Homo sapiens: one gene and its partners. The protein of the gene in region 3 purifies or fractionates together with the protein of the main gene of each other region. This does not show direct contact. Each region holds a gene or a part of one and is shown on either strand. Other genes may lie near its edges.

The links. The genes of interacting proteins can lie anywhere in the genome.
Region 1: the proteins of TMEM213 (region 3) and ALG11 purify together in Homo sapiens (affinity purification with mass spectrometry; 2 studies listed by BioGRID and IntAct, with this or other methods). This does not show direct contact.
Region 2: the proteins of TMEM213 (region 3) and METAP2 purify together in Homo sapiens (affinity purification with mass spectrometry; 2 studies listed by BioGRID and IntAct, with this or other methods). This does not show direct contact.

The regions. Positions count from the first base shown.
Region 1 is NC_000013.11:52,029,398-52,034,131, reverse strand, and holds the end of ALG11 (GDP-Man:Man(3)GlcNAc(2)-PP-Dol alpha-1,2-mannosyltransferase), read right to left. Parts: coding exon of another isoform or gene 3,027-4,734; 3' UTR 532-3,026; downstream 1-531. Other genes in the region: UTP14C (U3 small nucleolar RNA-associated protein 14 homolog C), read right to left, coding at 3,027-4,734. UniProt on the Homo sapiens protein: GDP-Man:Man(3)GlcNAc(2)-PP-Dol alpha-1,2-mannosyltransferase that operates in the biosynthetic pathway of dolichol-linked oligosaccharides, the glycan precursors employed in protein asparagine (N)-glycosylation.
Region 2 is NC_000012.12:95,477,152-95,484,182, forward strand, and holds part of METAP2 (methionine aminopeptidase 2), read left to right. Parts: intron 1-6,063; coding exon 6,064-6,129; intron 6,130-7,031. UniProt on the Homo sapiens protein: Cotranslationally removes the N-terminal methionine from nascent proteins. The N-terminal methionine is often cleaved when the second residue in the primary sequence is small and uncharged (Met-Ala-, Cys, Gly, Pro, Ser, Thr, or Val).
Region 3 is NC_000007.14:138,793,021-138,801,023, reverse strand, and holds the start of TMEM213 (transmembrane protein 213 precursor), read right to left. Parts: upstream 3,031-8,003; 5' UTR 2,920-3,030; coding exon 2,838-2,919; exon of another isoform or gene 2,828-2,837; intron 1-2,827.

The sequences.
Region 1 (4,734 bases), on a different chromosome or scaffold from region 3:
GATCATTCTGTAAATGGTAGCAATAAGTGTATCAACACTTTGACCTCCTCTGTGTCTAGTAACATTTGCATATAGTACAACTGAGCACATAGCACCAGAATATTGGAACAGATGCTTCTCCAAAGCCAAGGGTTGCCTTACATTTAGAGTGGGAAAAGAGGAAAATGAGTTAGCAGAGGAGCAGCGGGGAGGGGGGTAAATTACAGGACATAATTTGCTTCTAAAAATTTGTGTTTCGTGTTGTAGTTATATAATTAACTTTTCTATTGTACTGATTGACAGATTTGGCACAGACATCCTCTCATTGTGAATATATATGAATATATCAGAGTTTTGGACTCTGGGGTATATTTACATAAACACAAGTATTCTGAAAGCATTGATAACCACACTGGTGTCTCTTAATTTTGTCTATAAGATGACCTTATAAAATCCCTCAAGAATTATTTAAATCAAGTGTACGAAGCTCTGCAGTTTTTTGTTATGTCTGAAATATTCATTAAAAAGTTTATTAAACCTGACAGCCTCTTCTTAATGTTTCACAAGCAAGACAAACTTTTATTTTTGTTTCTTCTTTAATTGGCATATGGAGCTTGGGAATATTAGTAGGAGAACAAGGAGACTATGTGAGGCATATAAAAGGCACCACACTGGAAAGAATCCAAGAGAATGAAAAATCACTTCTTTAAATAATATTTAGACACAGACTTTGTATCTATATTAGATATAAATCATGTCTAAATACAAATCTAAATAATATTTACAAATAATTATTACACAAAACCTATGTAACACACACTTTATAGTACACAACTGTAAATAAGAATACAAATCTCCACTGCTGTGGGTTCAAAACAGCAGGCTTGGACCACTCAAAAATGACATCTGAGAGGAATTAATAGTCATCCTGAAAGTTCTGCAGACAGACGCTAGCGGACAAACCACTTTGACACTTTTCATGCTATCATTCAGAAAAAAATAGAATACATGTAATACCAAATTAGGAACACTGATAATGAACATATATGCAAATTATATCTTCCAATGATATATCTGTGATATATGAAAATAATTTTGAAGAAATAAGCTTAAAATATAATTTACGGAATTCCAGAAAACTTTTTCTTCCTTCACTACATCCTCAGGAATAAGGCAATTGAGTGGATAACAGTTTGAATCTTACTTCAAAGTGTAGCTACAAAGTAAGAAAAAGCACTGGGCCAGGAGTCAGAATATCCAGGTTATAATCTTGATTCTTTCATGAAACAGCTTTGTGACACTGAAGGAATCTACTAAATTCTTTAGATTTAAATTGTTCTTGTCTGTAAAGCTGAAAATAAGAGAGAACTGGGCTAATCTGTAGGGTTCCTTTCACTCCAATTTCTACCAGTCTTTTTCTAAATGGGATCATCTCTAACAAAAAGTTACAATGGTGTGTCAGAACATCCTGTGACTGACCCTCTGTTTGCTGCTTTTTGATCTGATGACAGATGGCTTGGAGATGTATCAACAACATAATTGGGAGTAGATAAGCTGGCCACATTGATGAATGACTGAGAGGAGACTGCAAAGAAATAATATACCGTTTCATTTGCCCCTTAACACAAAGATGAATCAGCCTGTGGATGGGGTCAATTCACTGAACTAGAAAGGATTGATTATATATGCATAAAGTGCAAAAGCTATAGGTCTTTATAGCCATATCTGCTCACACATATATTCACTTTTCCATGCTAGTTATTCAGGATAGAAGGTGCATTAAATTTATACCAATTCCTAGCTACTGGCCTAGTAACTAACAATCTACAGAGTTGTAATGCATTAATAAATATAGGATTATAGAAGACATTTAGTATGTGATGTTACCTTTAAGTAACTCTCATAATTTTCTTTTTCCTTTTTTTCTTTTTTGAGATGGAGTTTTGCTTATTGCCCAGGCTAGAGTGCAGTGGCACAATCTTGGCTCACTGCAACCTCTGCCTTCCAGTTTCAAGCAATTCTCCTGCCTCAGTCTCCCAAGTAGCTGGGATTACAGGTGCCTGCCACCAGGCCCAGCTAATTTTTTTGTATTTTTAGTACAGACAGGGTTTCACCATGTTGTTCAGGCTGGTCTCAACTGCTGACCTCATGATCCACCCATCTCGGCCTCCCAAAGTGCTGGGATTACAGGTGTGAGACACCGCACCCAGCCCTTAACTGTCGTAATTTTCAAAGTAGTTTCATCTACTTTCCATCTCATTCCAACTCTAAAAGGTAGTAAGGACTGGAATTAACAACTCCAGATTACAGATGAAGAATCTGAGACTCAGAAAGATAAAGGAGCAGCTTTAGTGTCAAAAGGTCAGAAGTTTGTAAATGAAGAAGCTGAAGGTAGGCCCAGATGTGCTAACTGCTTGCCCAGCGCTCTTTCAAAATGCCACCTTGCCATCTTACAATGCATTATGCTGGTAATAGATACCCTGTGGATGTATCTGTATATCATATCATCACTGTCAGAAAAACAGCCTGAGGTTCTCTTGAATGACTTAAAGCTGACTTCCAGGCTGAGATGCGGCACTGTTAAGGGACAATGAGAGACCCACACAAATGTGCTGACAGCATAAACAAAAACAATTTTCACCAGTACCTAGTATGGAAAGGATTGCTGGCAGCACCTTGGCCTCTACCACCCTACACACACCTATAAAGCATCAGTCAGTCCCACCTCTTGACTGTATGCTTTGAGAACACGATTAAACAAGTCTGTTTAAAATTTCTTTTTTAAGGAAATCATTAGGTATATTCAAAAGGGTCATCCACTGTATTGTTTAGAATTTAAATGTACTAGAATTTTTCTGTGTTCTAATGTCTGATCAATTCTAAAATGCTAGTCAATTAATGGTCATCCATTTTCTTTTTTTAAAAAATGTGGCTCAACTACATGCAATGTGCTGAGCCAGTTTTGGAATCCACCCTGTAGCAGAGTAAAACTGGACCAAAGGAAGTGGAATCAGGGCCCCTGACTGTCACTTCTCCAGCTACACAACCTACAGTTTTTCTTCTTTATTGTGACGTGTGGTGATTCGTTTTGGATTCCTCTGTATGACAGGCAGGTCTGACCTTGAGGAAGACTGGTAGCCCACATCCTCTGCTTTTATGGGCTTAATGATATGGCCTGGCTTGGTGACGACCTTGGGAGTAGTCAGCTTTTGGAAAGCCCTCTGGGTGTTCCATGTGGATCCTATAGGGGTCTGGATGGTCCTTTCAAATTGCCGATGGTGGGTAAATGGATATGGAAGCACTTGTACCTGATGAGCTGCTGCGTGGATGTTGCGCTTCTCACTGATAATCACATTTGGCAAATTCTTATCTTTTCTTGGAGGACCCTCAGGGGCTTTAATGAGAAACTGGCGTCTTTTCTTGGCACTGGGCTTTAGGCCCACACCACCCCACTCGCCCCAGCCAGGTAGTGTCAGGTCCACGTCCTTTGGCTTACTCGCCTCCACAGCTTCCCTCTTCTCTTTCAAGAAATCTCTGATGACATCATCCCCAGCAAAAGCTTCCTTTATCATCTGCCTTTGGTCTCTCTCCTCTTCATCTTCCAGCTCCTCTATTATTGTGGGAACTGCCAAAGACCTCACGGAAGGAGACTGTGTGGTCAGGAAGTTCTGTAGGTTGATCAGTTGCTCCTTCTCTTTCTTCTCCTTAGGGGCATCAGGCCGATTATTTGGGGTCCTCTCTGACTGCTGTCCTTCTAACACAGGTCTGGGAAGCTCCTTATTTTGAAAACAATCTTCTTTTCCCAGCTCTTCTAGCTCTTCCAGAGTTTGTACTCTCTCTGACCTCTGTAGCAATAGGGGTTCCGCTTCTTCTGGGGCAGGTTCCTCTCTCTGGACCTGGGGAACAGTCCCCTCTGAACTTGCTTTTTGCTTCCTGGACTGATGTTTTTCCTTCAATTTCTGAGATAGTGCCCTCAATTCGGACAGCACCTCCTGGCTGCTAGAATCTTTTGTTTCTTGACTGCTTGCTGGCTCAGCATCCTGGTTGAGCTCAGATCTTTTTCTAAGGGATTGCCTTTCCTCAAATTCTCTCAACAAAATTTCTTCCTCTGCCACTGGTCTTTCTTCTGCCTCACTTGCAGAAACCTCATGAGCTGCAAGCTCTGGCACTTGCTCAGGGTCCTCCTGTGTTGCAGCCTCTTTGGTGTCACTGGTGCAGCTCCTGAACATCCAGGGATTCGGTCCGTCCACATTCATCTGCACTTCATTCGCTACATGAGGGACAAGGAGTTCTTCCACTTCTGTGCCTCCCTCCTCTTCCTCACTCTCAGAGGCTACCTGGAGTTTCTGTGTCAGTTCTTTGTTCTTGGCCAACTGTTCCTGCATAGCTTGGCGAGCCTCCAGGTCATATTTGGCCATAATTGCCTTTGACTTGGCCCATTTCCCACTGTTTTGGTGCTTAAGGCTCATTCTTTCCATCATTCTGGCATTTTCAATTTTTTCCATTTCTTCCAGTGCCACAGTTGGATTAACCTTCTGTAGCTGCTCAAACTCTTTTAAGGCTTTCTTGGCCTTTCCTTTCTTCACGACTTTGTGATACTTTTTACTTTTGATTTTCTTCTCTTTTCGAGCCTTGGCCTCATAGTAGGACTGCAGAGCCCGAGCCCTCTGAAGCTCTGCTCGGTGCATCTTTGCCTCTTCCAGGCTCATGGCTTGGAGAGAGGCCTTTTCCATGGGAGTCAGTAAAGGATCTGTC
Region 2 (7,031 bases), on a different chromosome or scaffold from region 3:
GGAGTGCAGTGGCGTGATCTCGGATCACTGCGACCTCCCGAGCTCAAGCAATTCTCCTGCCTCAGCCTCCCGAGTAGCTGGGATTACAGGCGCCTGCCACCATGCCCAACTAATTTTTTTGTATCTTTAGTAGAAATGGGGTTTTGCCAGGTTGGTCTTGAACTCCTGACCTCAAGTAATCTGCCCACCTCAGCCTCCCAAGGTGCTGGGATTACAGGTTTGAGCTACTGTGTCCGGCCTGTTCCTTTTACTCTCTATACCAAAATTAACTCTTTTCATTCTGAAAGAATCGTATAGGAGTGCACTAAGTTTTATTATAAATTCCTTGACCCTAGCTCCTTCTGGGTGTTTGGGTACAATAAGATTTTTTTAAAGACAGCAACTGCTAATTGATGTTATCAGTAAAACAGTGAAGGAAGAGACAGGTAAGAAAACTTAACTTTTTTCCAGCCTCTTTTGGCGGAGGAAAAATGGGGCTTTCCCATTCTTTTTATTTGTAGCTGCCTACTACTGAGAACATCTGCTCCCCCTCAAGCACCACCAGCCTGGGGTTAGGTCTTTAACCATTAGTTGGGGCTGTAATTATTGTGTTAGGGTAATGTAGAGTAGTTGTTTTCCTTTAGAGTGGTATGTTCTCTGCCTTCAAGAAGCTTATAGTGAACATTTGGTGGAAAAAAGTGCCAAGATTCAAGGGAATTACTAGCTTTTCCTCTTCCTTAAACCTCTGTTCTACATTGGCTTATGCTTTAGATTATGAACTTATTTTGAGCTCTTCACAAGAAAATGTTTTGTAAATTCAAGGCAATATAATAGATTGCTATAGACCCACTGTGTATATGGTATCATAATGCTTCCTGGGCCTGTCAGGCTAGTTAAAAAATATTGGCTGGGTGTGGTGGCTTATGCCTGTAATCCAGACAAGCCTGGGCAACATAGTGAGACCCTATGTCTATACCCGTCCACCTCCCCCCACCCCCCAAAAAAAATCACAGTGCTAATCTTGAAGTGTTATCTTGTTCTGTTACATCTCTACAAAGTTGCCCATCAGGTTGGAAATCTTCAATGTATTAAAGAAGATTTTAGGAATATTTGTAGTTATTTCAGTAATCAGAGTCAGTCAATACTACTTACCTGTTGTTAGGTCTTTGAGGGAATGGAAAGCTAGTGTTTCAAGATCTTTCTCCTAATGGAAAACTAGACCAGGTGTGTTAGCTCTCGCCTGTAATCCCAGCATTTTGGGAGGCTGAGGTGGGTGGATCACCTGAGGTCAGGAGTTCAAAACCAGCCTTACCAACATGGTGAAACCCCATCTCTACTAAAAATACAAAAAATTAGCCAGGTGTGGTGGTGGGTGCCTGTAATCCCAGCTACTCGGGAGGCTGAGGCAGGAAAATTGCTTGAACCCAGGAGGTGGAGGTTGCTGTCAGTGGAGGTTGCGCCATTGCACTTTAGCCTGGGCAACAAAAGTGAAACTCTGTCTCAAAAAATAAGAAAAAATAAAGAAAACTAAGGATGTGGTAGACAGACAAAACCTAGAAGTGAAAAGGTATTTGGGTACCTGTAATAAAATTTATTGAAATTTGGTGGTATAAGTGTGGGCTGAATGCCGAAGGAAGGCTCATTGGAAGGAATAGAACTTGAGTAAAACCAAACAAAGGAACTATTTTGGGTTGGGGTAATGCTGAGAAAACATTTGAAGCATTGTGGTAATACAAGCTTGCCATATGAGGTGATAGATTGAGGGAGCCTTAGAGGATTTTTAAGAAATGTTATGAGCCAAGCACAGTGGCTGGTGCCTGTAATCCCAGCTACTTGGGAGGCTGGGATGGGAGGATCTTTGAGTCCAGGGGGCTTCAGTATGCTACGAAAACACCTGTGACTGGCCACTGCACTCCAACCTGGGTAACATAGTAAGACCCTGTCTCTTAACAAAAAAGGAATGTTATGAAATAATAATTTAGGCTTTACCTGTATACAGGGTTGTTTAGAGGAGAGGAAGTGTGTAGGAAAGGCAAGGAGGAGATCATTTTGGAGGCCTCTTAGAAATAGCCCAGGCATATGGTAATGAAGATGTAAACTGATAGTCATAAATAGGCATGGAGAGGAAGGATCCAGTGAACAGTAGTGTGGAAGCAGAATTCAAAAGACTTGGAGACTTGCATTCTGGGAGCAGGAGTAAGGCATTAGTGGACTCTGGGAGTTTGCACTTGGGTGACAGAATGTTGGTGCTGTTGACTGAAATAGTGAAGTTGGGAAAGAGCCAGTTAGACATTGGGGGAGAGGTTTGCAGGCAAAGAAGAGGGTACTAAGTTTAATTTTAGATGTGCTGAATTGGAAACTGTGGTATTGGTATAAAAAGTTGATCCTGTGGTCATCTGACAGTGTGCTGGAGGTAATTCATTCAATACATTTTGAGTCAGGCTCATTAACATATAATTTCCCTAAAATAATAGTCACCACTCTTTTTTTTTTTTTTTGAGACGGAGTCTCACTCTTGTCCAGGCTGCAGTGCAGTGGCACGATCTCAGCTCACTGCAACCTCTGCCTTCCGGGTTCCAGCGATTCTCCTGCCTCAGCCTCCTGAGTGGCTGGGATTACAGGTGCCCGCCACCACTCCCAGCTAATTTTTGTATTTTTAGTAGAGACAGGGTTTCACCATGTTGGCCAGGCTGGTCTCGAACTCCTGGCCTCAAGTGATCCGCCCGCCTCAGCCTCCCAAAGTGCTGGGATTACAGGCGTGAGCCACCATACCTGGCCCCAATAGTCATCCTTTTTAAGTGTATAGTTTGGTGAGTTTTGACAAAGTATGCAATTGTGTAACTACTACCACGACGGAAGATACAGACTATTTCCATTTAACATTTCCATCTCCAGAAAAAAGTTGTGTCTCTTGTAGTTGGTTCTCTTGCACTATACCTAACCCTTAGCAATCACTGATACGTTTTCTGACCCTAGTTTTGGCCTTTCCTGGAGTATCCTATAAATGGAATTATTCGGTATGTAGTTTTTTGTGTTTGGCTTGTTTTACTTAGCATAATACTTTTGACAGTCATCGAGTTGTGCATTTATCAATAGCACATTCCTTTTTATTGCAAGTAGTATTCCTAATATGTTTTACCCTTTTACATTGAACAATATTTGGGGTGTTTACAGTTTTGGTCTGTTGTGAACGAAGTTACTATGAACATTTGCATATGGGTCTATGTGTAGATATGTTTTCATTTCTCTTGAGTAAATAGGACTGGGTTGCCTGTCATATGGTAAGTATGTGTTTAAACTCCTAAGAAGCTGTCTGGTTTCCAAAGTGGCTATGCTGTTTTGCATTCCTCTTAGCAATGGTTGAGAGTTTCAGGTTGTTCGTATCCTTGTAAGGACTTGGTATTTGTTTTAAAATTTTAGTCTTTGATAATGGGTATGTAGTGCTTTGTCATTGTGGTTTTAATATGCACTTCCCTAATGATATTGAGCATCTTTTCATGTTTTTATTTGCTTTTTCCTTTATCTTTGGTAAAGTGTTTGTTCACATTTTTTGTCCATGTTTTATTGGGTTATTTGTCATCCTATTGAATTGTAATAGTTCATTGTATATTCTGGTTGCAAGTTCTTTATCAGATAATATGTTTTACAGATATTTCTATGGGATGGCTATTCACCTGGTTAATGGTATTGCTTATAGGACAGTTTTAATTTTGATAAAGTCCAATCTATCTGTTTTTTAAATTTATGGGTAGTGCTTTTTGTGTCCTGTCTAAAAAGTTAAGTCATTGCTGTCTCTAAGGTCACAAAGATGTTCTGTGTTCTCTTCAAGAAGTTTTATATATTTTTAGCTGTTATGTTTAGGTCTATGGTTCATTTAGAATTAATGTTTCTAGATAGTGCAAGGCAGAGCTTAAAAGCTTGAGACTCTTTTTTTTAAAATATGATTTCCAGTTGTCATTCAACAGATATCAACTGATTTGGGCATAGTAGTAACACAAATAAACATAAGCAGCCTCTGCTGGCCAGGCCTGGTGGCTCATGCCTATAATCCCAGCACTTTGGGAGGCTGAGATGCGATTCGAGACCAGTCTGGGCAACTTAGACCTTGTCTCTGCAAAAGATTAAAAAACATTAGCCAGGTATAGTGGTGCGTGCCTGTAGTCTCAGCTATTCAGGAAGCTGAGGTGGGAGGATTTCCTGAGTCTGGGAGATTGAGGCTGCAGTGAGCTGTGATCCTGCCACTGCACTCCAGCTTGGGCAACAGAGTGAGACCCTGTCACAGAAAAACCAAAAAAACCAACCATCTCTGCCTATGAAGAATATGCTGGGATACTGTGAAGAAAAGACATGTAAAAGCACAAATTTCAACATGGTATAATGGTTGGAACTATAAACATATATAGATTAATACTCAGATCCTGGCTCTGCTGCCATCCTGGCACAAAGTTCTATAAATGGTGGCTGTTTTTCTGTACTGAATACAGACATTGGACATTGAATAAGGTAATTAGCCTCAAAAGGATGAAAGTATCAAAGAAGGACCTTTTTGTTCCATTTTAAAGATGAAGAAACCAGGGTAGAGGGAGGCTAAATAACTTGCCCAAGGTCACCCAGATGGAAAGATTTTTAGTATATGTTTAAAATTGGTGATGTATCTTCAAGTATTTGTTTTAGGTTGTGCTACATACACTAGGTATAGTGCTACATACACTAGTCACAACCTAAAACAAATACTTCAAGATTCATAACCAGTTTTAGTCTGGAAAAAACTATTGTTTCTCCAGAACAGAAACTATCTTATTTTTCTGTCCCTATTGCCTGGCACTTAAGAGCCCAACAAACATTTAATGGGGTGAAGAAGGTTACTGTTAACGTTACAGTGCACGATATGTGAATTAGATTATAATTTTTCGTGTGCCTTTTGTTAGGCTTTTGAATCTAAAAATCCATAATGAATAAGTCAGCAATATTTGTGTTTTGGGTTTGTTGTTGTTAGGATACAAGATCTCCCTCCCGTCACCCAGGCTGACGTGCTGTGGCTCGATCTCAGCTCACTGCAGCCTTGACTTCCCTGGCTCAGGTGATCCTCCCACATCTCAGCTTTCCAAGTAACTGGGACTATGGGCGCATACCACCACACCTGGATAATTTTTTGTACTTTTAGTAGAGACAGGGTTTCACCATGTCCTCCAGACTGGTCTCAAACTCCTGGGCTCAAGTGATCCACCTGCCTCAGCCTCCCAAAGTGCTAGGATTACAGGTGTGAACCACTTTACCTAGCCTAATATTTGTACTTCTACTGTTCTCTTCTGCCTGCTAGGTTTTTGATAATTTCATAAGATTGAACATAAGAAATGGTGATTTTGAGGCTGGGTACAGTGGCTCACGCCTATAATCCCAGGACTTGGGAGGCCAAGGCTGGCAAATCACTTGATGTCAGGAGTTCGAGACCAGCCTGGTCAACATGGCGAAACTCCATCTCTACTAAAAAAAAAAAAAAAAAAAATTAGATGGGCATGGTGGCATGCACCTGTAATCCCAGATACTTGGGAGGTGGAGGCTGAGACATGAGAATCACTCAAACCTGGGAGGCGGAGGTTGCAGTGAGCTGAGATTGCGCCATTGCACTCCAGCCTGGGCAACAGAGCTAGACCCTGTTTCAAAAAAAGAAAGAAAAGAAGTGGCAATTTTGACCAAAAATGGTCAAGTATTGGCATTTTCATATGGTTCAACCCACGTAAGTCCTAGATCACGTTACCTCCCACTTTGCTAAACTGCTGCTTCCTGTTTCTAAATTTTTTAGTGTTGGAGTCTCACTATGTTGCCCAAGCTGGATTCCAACTCCTTGGCTCAAGTGATCCTCCCACCTCAGCTTCCCTAGTAGCTGGGACTATAGGCATGTGCCACCACACCTGGTAGCTGCTTCCTATTTCTTATTTCAGTGAAAGAATAAATGTAAACAAGATAAAATAAACTAACGTTTGTTCATTTATTGAATAGAGCAAATACTTGTCTCCTTGTACTTGCTTTGTCCCTCTGCTTATGAGGTTTAAATGAACATGTACTTGAAATGTCTTTTCTTAGATGGAGATGGCGATGGAGATGGAGCAACTGGAAAGAAGAAGAAAAAGAAGAAGAAGAAGAGAGGACGTTAGTGTCTTAAGTTAATGTTAATTGATATATTAGAAGTGTTTATTCTGTCGGGTGTGGTGGCTCACACCTGTGATCCCAGCTACTCCGGAGGCTGAGGCAGGAGAATTGCTGGAACCCAAGAGACGGAGATTGCAGTAAGCTGAGATTGTGCCACTGCACTGCAGCCTGGGCAACAGAGTGAGACTCTGTCTCAAAAAAAAAAAAAAAAAAAAAAAGAAGTGGTTATTCACTGACAGGTTTGAAGAGTAGGTTTGAAGTTGCTTAAGGTCCTGATATATGTTAGGGAAATAAACTTAGGCTTAATAGAAGCAGAATTTAGTGAAACTAATAATTATTTATTAGTTTAATAACTTTGGTTTAACAATCCTTTATTTTCTTTAGCTGTTAGCTAAGGGATGTCGATATGAATTGGTTGCATTTTACTGCAAGTTAGGGATGAGTTTCTAAAAATTTTATGATTTAAAACTTGCATAATTTAAAGAATAATTCTGTCAAGAATGGCCGAAGTGGTGCCATGGTGGTGGTAGGGTAAGCGTTGTTTGTAATTTACCTTCCAGCTTTTAAATTATGAGATTCTTGATGAGTATTTAATGAGGAATCCCGTTATTTAAGATGTGTGCATATGGTGAGACTTTATTATTAATAATAACTTTTATATTGTACGATCAGATTTGTATAAAATATCCTGCTTGTTTTGAGTTTCTGTAAGTGCCACAACCAAACATCATCAGGTGCCCGAAAATATATTAAGGAGGCTGAAGGGAGATTTCGTAGTGTTGAGGAAGAAAGGTTGGGTTGAGAATCACAACATGTAAGTTTTAATCTTGGATGCCATTTGGGCTGTTGTAGACCACTGAATGTCTGGTTATGCCTTCCTTTAAAATTTTTCAGGCTAAAAT
Region 3 (8,003 bases):
CGGGGTCCTTATAAGATGAGGAAGAGGCCAGGTGCAGTGGTTCACACCTGTAATCCCAGCATTTTGGGAGGCCGAGGTGGGCAGATCACCTGAGGTCAGGAGTTCAAGAACAGCCTGGCCAACATGATGAAACCCTGTCTCTACTAAAAATACAAAAGCAGCCGGGCGTGGTGGTGCATGCCTGTAATCCCAGCTACTTGGGAGGCTGGGGCAGCAGAATTGCTTGAACCCAGGAGGCGGAGGTTCAGTGAGCTGAGATCACACCATTGCACTCCAGCCTGGGTGACGAGTGAAACTCCGTCTAAAAAAAAAAAAAAAAGAAGAAGAAGAAGAAGAAGAAGAAGAAACATCAGCAACACACATGCACAGAGAAAAGTCCACGTGAGAACCCAGTGAGAAGGCGTCTATTTGCAACCCAAGGAGGGAGGCCTCAGGAGAAATCAAACCATCAACACCTTGATCTTGGACTTCCAGCCTCCAGAATGATGGCTGTCAAAAAAAATTAAACATCATAGAAGCAAGCCCAGAGACTGCCAGAATACGCAGCACATAGATTGATTCATGAGCAAGGAGTGGAAAGATAAAAAGGACTTTAGCATGAATTGTTAAAGTCCTGTTGTCTTGAGGTGTGGGATTGGGTTAGGGATCTGAGGCATCCAGGTTCCTGTCCATAACTGACAATAAGAAGAGAGATGACCTCTAAGTCCATACTGTTCAATACGGCAGCCACTAGCCACCTGTGGTTGTTTAAATTTATTAAAATCAAATTCAGTAAAAAAAACTCAGCTTCTTGTTTACATTAGACCCATGCCAAGGGTTCCATTGCCGCGTGTGACTAGTGGCTACCATATTGGAAGCACCACTCAGACATGGGACATTTCCACCCTCAGTGCAAGTTCTATTATTAGACAGTGCTCATGCTGACCTAGGTAGATGGAAACCAAGAGATGGATTGGAAGAACCTTCCTAGAAATTATATTGCTGTTCGTTCTGCTTCTTGGGGAATGCAAAAAGGAAAAAAAAAAAAGTGGTGGGCATGGAAACTCTCAAGGTTCCCCTGGCTGTGGGTCAGTGTGTCCTTCAAGGGAGCTTGTTGTCACAGCAGGACGAGTTCAGAAGAAACCTGCTGTTTAGCTAAAGCCATGAAGTTGCTGCTGAGACTAATTTTATGCCACCCAACCCCCAAGCCACTCCAATGTCCTGCTTAAAGTATAGTAATTGCCTCGATGCAATCTGTTACTGTAAATTATTTACAGCTAAATGGCTTAGAGCCTGGTCTTTATTTGTTTTGGAGAAACTGATTCCTCACTATTCTAATTTTCCTTATGACTCAAATAACTTCCTTGGCCCTGACTTTCATTTCACCTCTACACCTAGAATGGAAGTTGTCCTCTTCCAAAGTGAGTGGAAAAAAACCCTAGTTGGCTGAATGCTAGGGTTAGGTTCGAGCTTATGAAATTGCCATTGTTATAGGTGAAAATTGTTCAATATCAGCAATTTTCTGTGGTTCAAATGGAATAGCCCCGGTGAAAATTCCTAAGAATTTAAACATCGCCCTCCTCCCTTATAAGCAGAGCCAGAAGCGAGGGAGGGACTGGCCCTACTTGGGGCTATTCCACAAGAAAAGCTGCTGGGAAGACCCAACGATTCAGTGCAGTTAAACTTGTCTTCTGATTCTGAGCTCCCATCATAAGCAAGGCACTGTCGGGGTAAGTAGAAAGAAACTCAGCACTCTTATTTGGGGAGGGGTGAAGTTGGAAAATAAAATGAATGTGCTTACCATAATTGCTGACATTCACTGTGTGTGTTCTATGGGCTATTTCTAAGTTCTTTACATGAAATTACATCAATTCGTCTTGACAAGCACTATGATTGTCCCCATGAGATAAAGGAGGAAACTTGGCATAGAGAGGTAAAGTCATTTGCTCGAGGTCGCATAGCTAGTGAGTCATGGAAGCTGGACCTGGGTTCAGGCTCAGCGGCTCAAGAGTGCACGTCTTGAACCTCAACACCAACACCCCTGGCAGTGGCTACAGAAGAGAGTCTGAGGATGAGAGGGGCAGACACAGGACTTTGGGGGCAGGGTTGGTTTTGGGAGCAGGAGTGTTGCAGGGCATAGAGAGTGTGGTGGTGTTCTGAGGTGGCTGAGAACAAGATCAAAGCCAGGAGCAGAAGATGGTAACCAAGGTCCCTCTGCCGTGAGTTGCAGAACCCGGCCTGGCAGGGCAAGGCAGGGGATGTAGATCAGCCTTCCAGCCTCCACAGGAAAATGGGGAGATAACCCAGCATTTCCAGTGCCCGGGGAGGCAGGAGGGTGGGAGACAGTGAATGGCAGCCCTCCTGGCAGTCAGGTTTTGTGAAAGTCGCAGAGAAAGTACAAGGGGCAGGGAGGGATGGAGGACTTAGGAAAGGGAAGGTCAGACACAAATGTGCACAGGGAGGATTGCAAAGCACGACAGCCCAGTGGGGCTGAGAAGGAGCCTTCAGGACACAGCGGACCAAGAGATATCATTTTGGTCCCCTGATGGGTGAGACTCCAGCAAATAACTTTTTCCTTTCTTTGTGGCAAAGGCCAAGAGAGGTGGCTGCTCCTGCCTTAGCTGAGGAATTGAGTATCTGATCTCCGTCTCAGGCCAACCTAAGACCCCCCCTGCCCCAGCCCCACCTCCCACCCCCTGCCTAATCCTTCAGATGAGAAAGTTCTGTTTCCTCCTTCCTTTGCGCAGGACCAACCCTGGCCAAAGAATCTTCCCCCTCCTCCTTCTTTCCCTCCCACCTCTCTTCCCTCCTTCCCTCCCCCTTCCCAGCCTGGCCATGAATAAAGCTCATAACGCTACCTGCCGAGCAAGCCGAGTGGAGGGAGGCAAAGGCCAGGCTGAGGATCAGGGTGGCCCGGGTGGCAGCGGGGAGGCGCTGCATGCTGGAGGCTGTGCTGAGTGCCCGGTGCAGGTGAGCCGGTCCTGCGGAGTTGTGCCGAGTGCCTGCTGCAGGTGAGTCGACTCCCACCTGCAGGAGCTGGAAAGCAACTCTGCCAGAGGTGAACTTATGCTGGGTGTTTGGGGGAAACACCATGGGGTGGAGCAAAGGAAACTTGGCCTGTCACACCTTCTCTCACCTCTCTAGAAGGGAAGCCAAACCGTTGGCTGAGGAAGGAAGGGAGGGGCAAGCTGTGCCCTTCTCCCCTGAGCGCAAATATTGTCCTTATTGAGAAACAAGGGGAGGACAAGAGAGATCTGTGTCATGCTGGTTCCTGGGACATGAGTTTGCTGCCTCTCCCATCTGCAGGTGTAGCATGGATGCTCAATTCCATTTGGGCCAATATTCACTGAGCACCCACTATGCTGAAGTTGGGAGATACCTGCTGTCGAAGTGCGTTAATTACAAACACGCATCATTCAACCCCAGAACCGTGTTTGAGGAATGGCTTGGGAGGATAAAGCACTGTGGGTTTCAACAGTGGAGGCCACATCTGCTGATGGGATGCTTCAAGAAGAAAATGGCATTTGAGGTTGGGCATGGGGGCTCACCCTGTAGTCCCAGCACTCTGGGAGGCTGAGGCAGGTGGATCACTTGAAGTCAGGAGTTCAAGACCAGCCTGGCCAAAATGGTGAAACCCCATCTCTAATAAAAATACAAAAATTAGCCAGGTGTGGTGGTGCATGCCTGTAGTCCCAGCCACTTGGGAAGCTGAGGCAGGAAAATCGCTTGAACCCGGAAGACAGAGGTTGCAGTAAGCTGAGATGCTCCTGACCCTGCATTCCAGCTTGGCCGACAGAGGGAGACTCCATCTCCAAAAAAAAAAAAAAAAAAAAAAAGAAAATGGCATTTGGCCTGGGCCTTGAAGGATGGCTAGAATTTTGACAGGGGGAGAGGGGAAGATGGCATTATAGGTAGAGGGACAGATGAGCAAAGGTCCAGAGGTAAGGAAGTGTCAGAGGGTGGCTGTACCAGCAGCACCCAGAAGCGCAGGTGAGCCAAGGCATGTGAGGTGGGGAGGCAAGAGGAGAGCTGTGGGCTAAGCTTCTGCGTGCCTGGTAGAGGAATTTGAAACAAAGTCAGGAAGCAAAGGGGAAGGTTCTGTAGAGATTTTGAGCTGAGGAGTAACTTGACTAGAGCTCTGCATTCCGTCTAAAACATTTATTGAAGACCCACATGTATATAAAAGGTCTCATCCTAGGCACTGGAGACTGAGATGACTGAGACACGCCTCTTCCCCTTGAGAGCACAGTGCAGCAGGGAACCAAACCCGGAAGAAAGAAATTTGATGCAACCTGGCAAGACTCAAATAGGGGTACCTTCCACTGTGATGGGAATAAAAAGGAGGATGGGATGAACTCTGCCTGAGAGGTATAGGGGAAGGATTCACAGAGAAAGTGACATTTGGGCTGGGTGCTGAAGTTTGTATGTGCAGATTAGAGTTGATGGGCTTTTCAAGTCAAAGGAATAGCACCTATAAAGGCGAGGGAATCGTCTGTGTGCACACAGCCTGCCATGTGTGGAAGTGTTCCTGCGCATGAATGGGCCTGGTAAGGGTGAGGGGTGGACTCCAGCTCTGTGGAAAGACATAGAAGGCGTGAGTAAGCCCCAAGGAAAGATTTCCTAGTGGAGTGTAACAGCCCAGGGGAGGCACTTTTTTCTAATTGGCTCTAAGATATAAAATAGTGGTGGCCTATGTTCCTGGATTTGGGGATAGGGCCAACGTGCCCTAGGAAGGGTGATTTTCAGTCAGTGCACAGAAGTCCAGTTTAGGCATTACCACTAGTTGAACATTAAACAGTTGCATGCCAGGCCAGGCTCTCGGTGTGGGGACCTGGGGGTGAGAAAGACCACACAGCCCTTGTGCTCAAGGAACTCAAGGTCCCCACAGAGAGGACGCTGCTTAGTAGAACAAATGCTGTCCTCGATGTTTTCCTCACAAGTAAACCCTGCAGTGGGCTTCACAGGGCAGGACTGATTTATCCAATGGGTACTAGGGATAACAGCGGTACGTGGAATCCCCAAGATTTCCAAGGATCTCAAAAATGTTTGAGACCTGAGAAAATATTCTCAGATCCAAAATTTGAAGAACAGACCAGGCATATTGGCACACGCCTGTCATCCCAACACTTTGGGAGGCCGAGGTGGGAAGATCACTTGAGCCAGGGAGTTCAAGACCAGCCTGCACAACATAGTAAGACCCTGCCTCCGCAAAACAAACAAAAAAAAACACAAAAAAATTACTTGGGTATGGTAGTGTGCACCTGTAGTCTCAGCTACTCAGGAGGCTGAGGTGGGAGGATCACTTGAGCCCAGGAGGTTGAGGCTGCAGTGAGCTGAGATGGCACCACTGCACTCCAGCCTGGGTGACACAGTGAGACCCTGTCCCCAAACAAACAAACAAAAATTTGAACAATCAAAAACTGGGCAAAATAAATGATTGTTTCAAAAGCAAAGTTATACAGTTCACTTGAAATGTTTAAACGGAAACGATTTAATGTGGGACGCTGGGTGCATTTTAATGTGTTTGACGTGAGCAGAGCCTGTCCCTCCTATGGAATCGGAACCTGAGGTATGCAAACATGTAAGATGGCCTGCCTGGGGTTATTGTAGTGGTGGATTGAACAGCATCTGCAGCCTAAGCTGAGACCATCCTATCAAGTCGTATCAGGGAAAGCTTTTCTGGCAAGCAGTGGATGTGGAGGAGGGGGATAATGTGTTGGCCCTCCCTCCCTATTTTATCATTGTTATGTGATGTCGGACTGTTTTAGATGAGCTGTTTGTAGGACAAACATTCTCCTATCTACAGATGGAAGAACTTTGTTATTCGAAAATAGTATAGGCTGGGCCAGGCACGGTGGCTCAGGCCTGTAATCCCAGCACTTTGGGAAACTGAGGCAGGTGGCTCATTTGAGGTCAGGAGTTCGAGACCAGCCTGGCTAACATGGTGAAATCCCATCTCTACTAAAAAAATTCAGAAATATTAGCCAGGCGTGGTGGTGCATGCCTGTAATCCCGGCTACTTGGGAGGCTGAGGCAGGAGAATCACTTGAACTGGGGAGGTGGAGGTTATAGTGAACCGTGATTGTGCCACTGCACTCCAGCCTGGGCAACAGAGTGAGACTCTGTCTCAAAAAAAAAAAAAAAAAATAGGGTGGGCTGGACTGGCCAATGATAACTATTAACCCCAAAGAAAGGGCTGTGTGTGTGTGGCCACTTTTTACTTTACGAGTGTCACCAGTATTTGCTGTTTGTAGCAGGTCTACAACTAACAACTCCATGTGGCCCATTTCCTCACTCATACATTTTGCATCAGGTTTACTTTGGAGCGCATATCAGGAAGTTGCCTTACTCAAAGCTAGACTTTCTCAAGACTTTTTTTTTTTTTAAATGGGTGAGATAGGTATTTGGTTACACACACTATTTTAAAAGTTCAGGCTGAAATGTCTGTGGCTAGGCACCATGGTGGTGGTTGGAGAGAGGAGTAGCCAAGAGAGTGGGATTCCAGGGCTCTTACTGCTTCCAATTTCACCTGTTATCCCTGATAAGATTTCATGTGAAAAAGAAAAGAAGTAGGCAGAGAGTTTCCAGGGCTAAAAGATGGAAAACCTGCAGTCTGTGGCCTGGAACGGCCCAGGGAAGAATATTTCATGTTAATGAAGCTTCTCTTGTGATTCTGATAGGCCCCGTTGCCACCTGTCCATCTCGGGGAAAAGACCTCTCACCTTGAACTTGGGTTTTTCATCTCCAGTTAACCCAAAATCTATTCAGAGGAGAATTGTGGCCCTAACCAAGCCTGTGCCTGCCAAGCCCCAGCTCCCTCACAGAGATGGGGTTGATGGCTCTTCTTGCTCCTGGCTCTGTCAGGATCTGTTTTTACAAAATAATGTCAGGCTCTGGGTGGTTGTGGGACCGAAACATCTAGATGTGGACCTGAGCAGCACTTAGTTTGTGGAGGAGTTAACCTCACTCCCTGCCCTTCAGTGATGGGTCTGTAATTTGGAGAGAACAAGAGGTTCCCTTTTAGGAAACCTTGAGAACTACAGCTGTTAAGATCATGCCATAGAGTTAGTTGATCAAAGTAAGAAAGTCAGCAAGGAAGTCCTGGAGTCCACCATTTGGAATAATTTTTGAACACTTCCCAGGATGACTAATTTAGCTTGTTCAAAATTGCACTGGGAGGCGGTGCAGCTATGGTCCAGACACGCGGAGGTTAACACAAAGGAGGTCCTTCCTCTTGGCGAAAACAACCTTCCACCTAGGTCCTGTATCTTATTCCCTCCCATCTTCTCTGAAGTATATTTCTTAATTTCCAAACATACGGAGGTTTTCTAGTTATCTTTTTGTTATTGATTTGTAGCTTAGTTGCACTGTGACCTGCGAATATACTTTGATGATTTCTATTTTTTGATGTTAGTTAAAAGACACCATATGACCAATTTTTGTGGCTCTTGAATGTGTCATGCAGTTGTGGGGTCAGTGCTCCGGGTAAGTCCATTAGATCAAGAGTGCTAATTGTGTGGTTCAGAACATCCATATTTTTCCTGTCTTTTAAAATTTGGTCTAATTATTCTGTTGAATACAGAGATGATTGCGGGTTTCTTTCTTCCCTGTAGTTTTGTCAACTTTTGCATTCAATATTTGAGGCTGTAATTGAGGTACAAACAAATACGGAATTTTGACAACTTCCTGGCAAATTGAACCTTCTTTTAAAAAATCATTGTGTAATATCCCTCATCTCTTTTATATTTTTGAGATGGAGTCTCTCTCTGTCGCCCAGGCTGGAATGCAGTGGCACGATCTCGGCTCACTGCAACTTCCACCTCCCGGGTCCAAGCGATTCTTCTTCCTCAGTCTCCTGAGTAGCTGGGATTACAGGCGTGTGCCACCACCCCCGGGTAATTTTTGTATTTTTGGTAGAAACAGGGGTTTCACCATGTTGGCCAGGCTGGTCTTGAAATCCTGACCTCAGGTGAGACTCCCGTCTCAGCCTCCCAAAGTGCTGGGATTACAGGTGTGAGCCACTG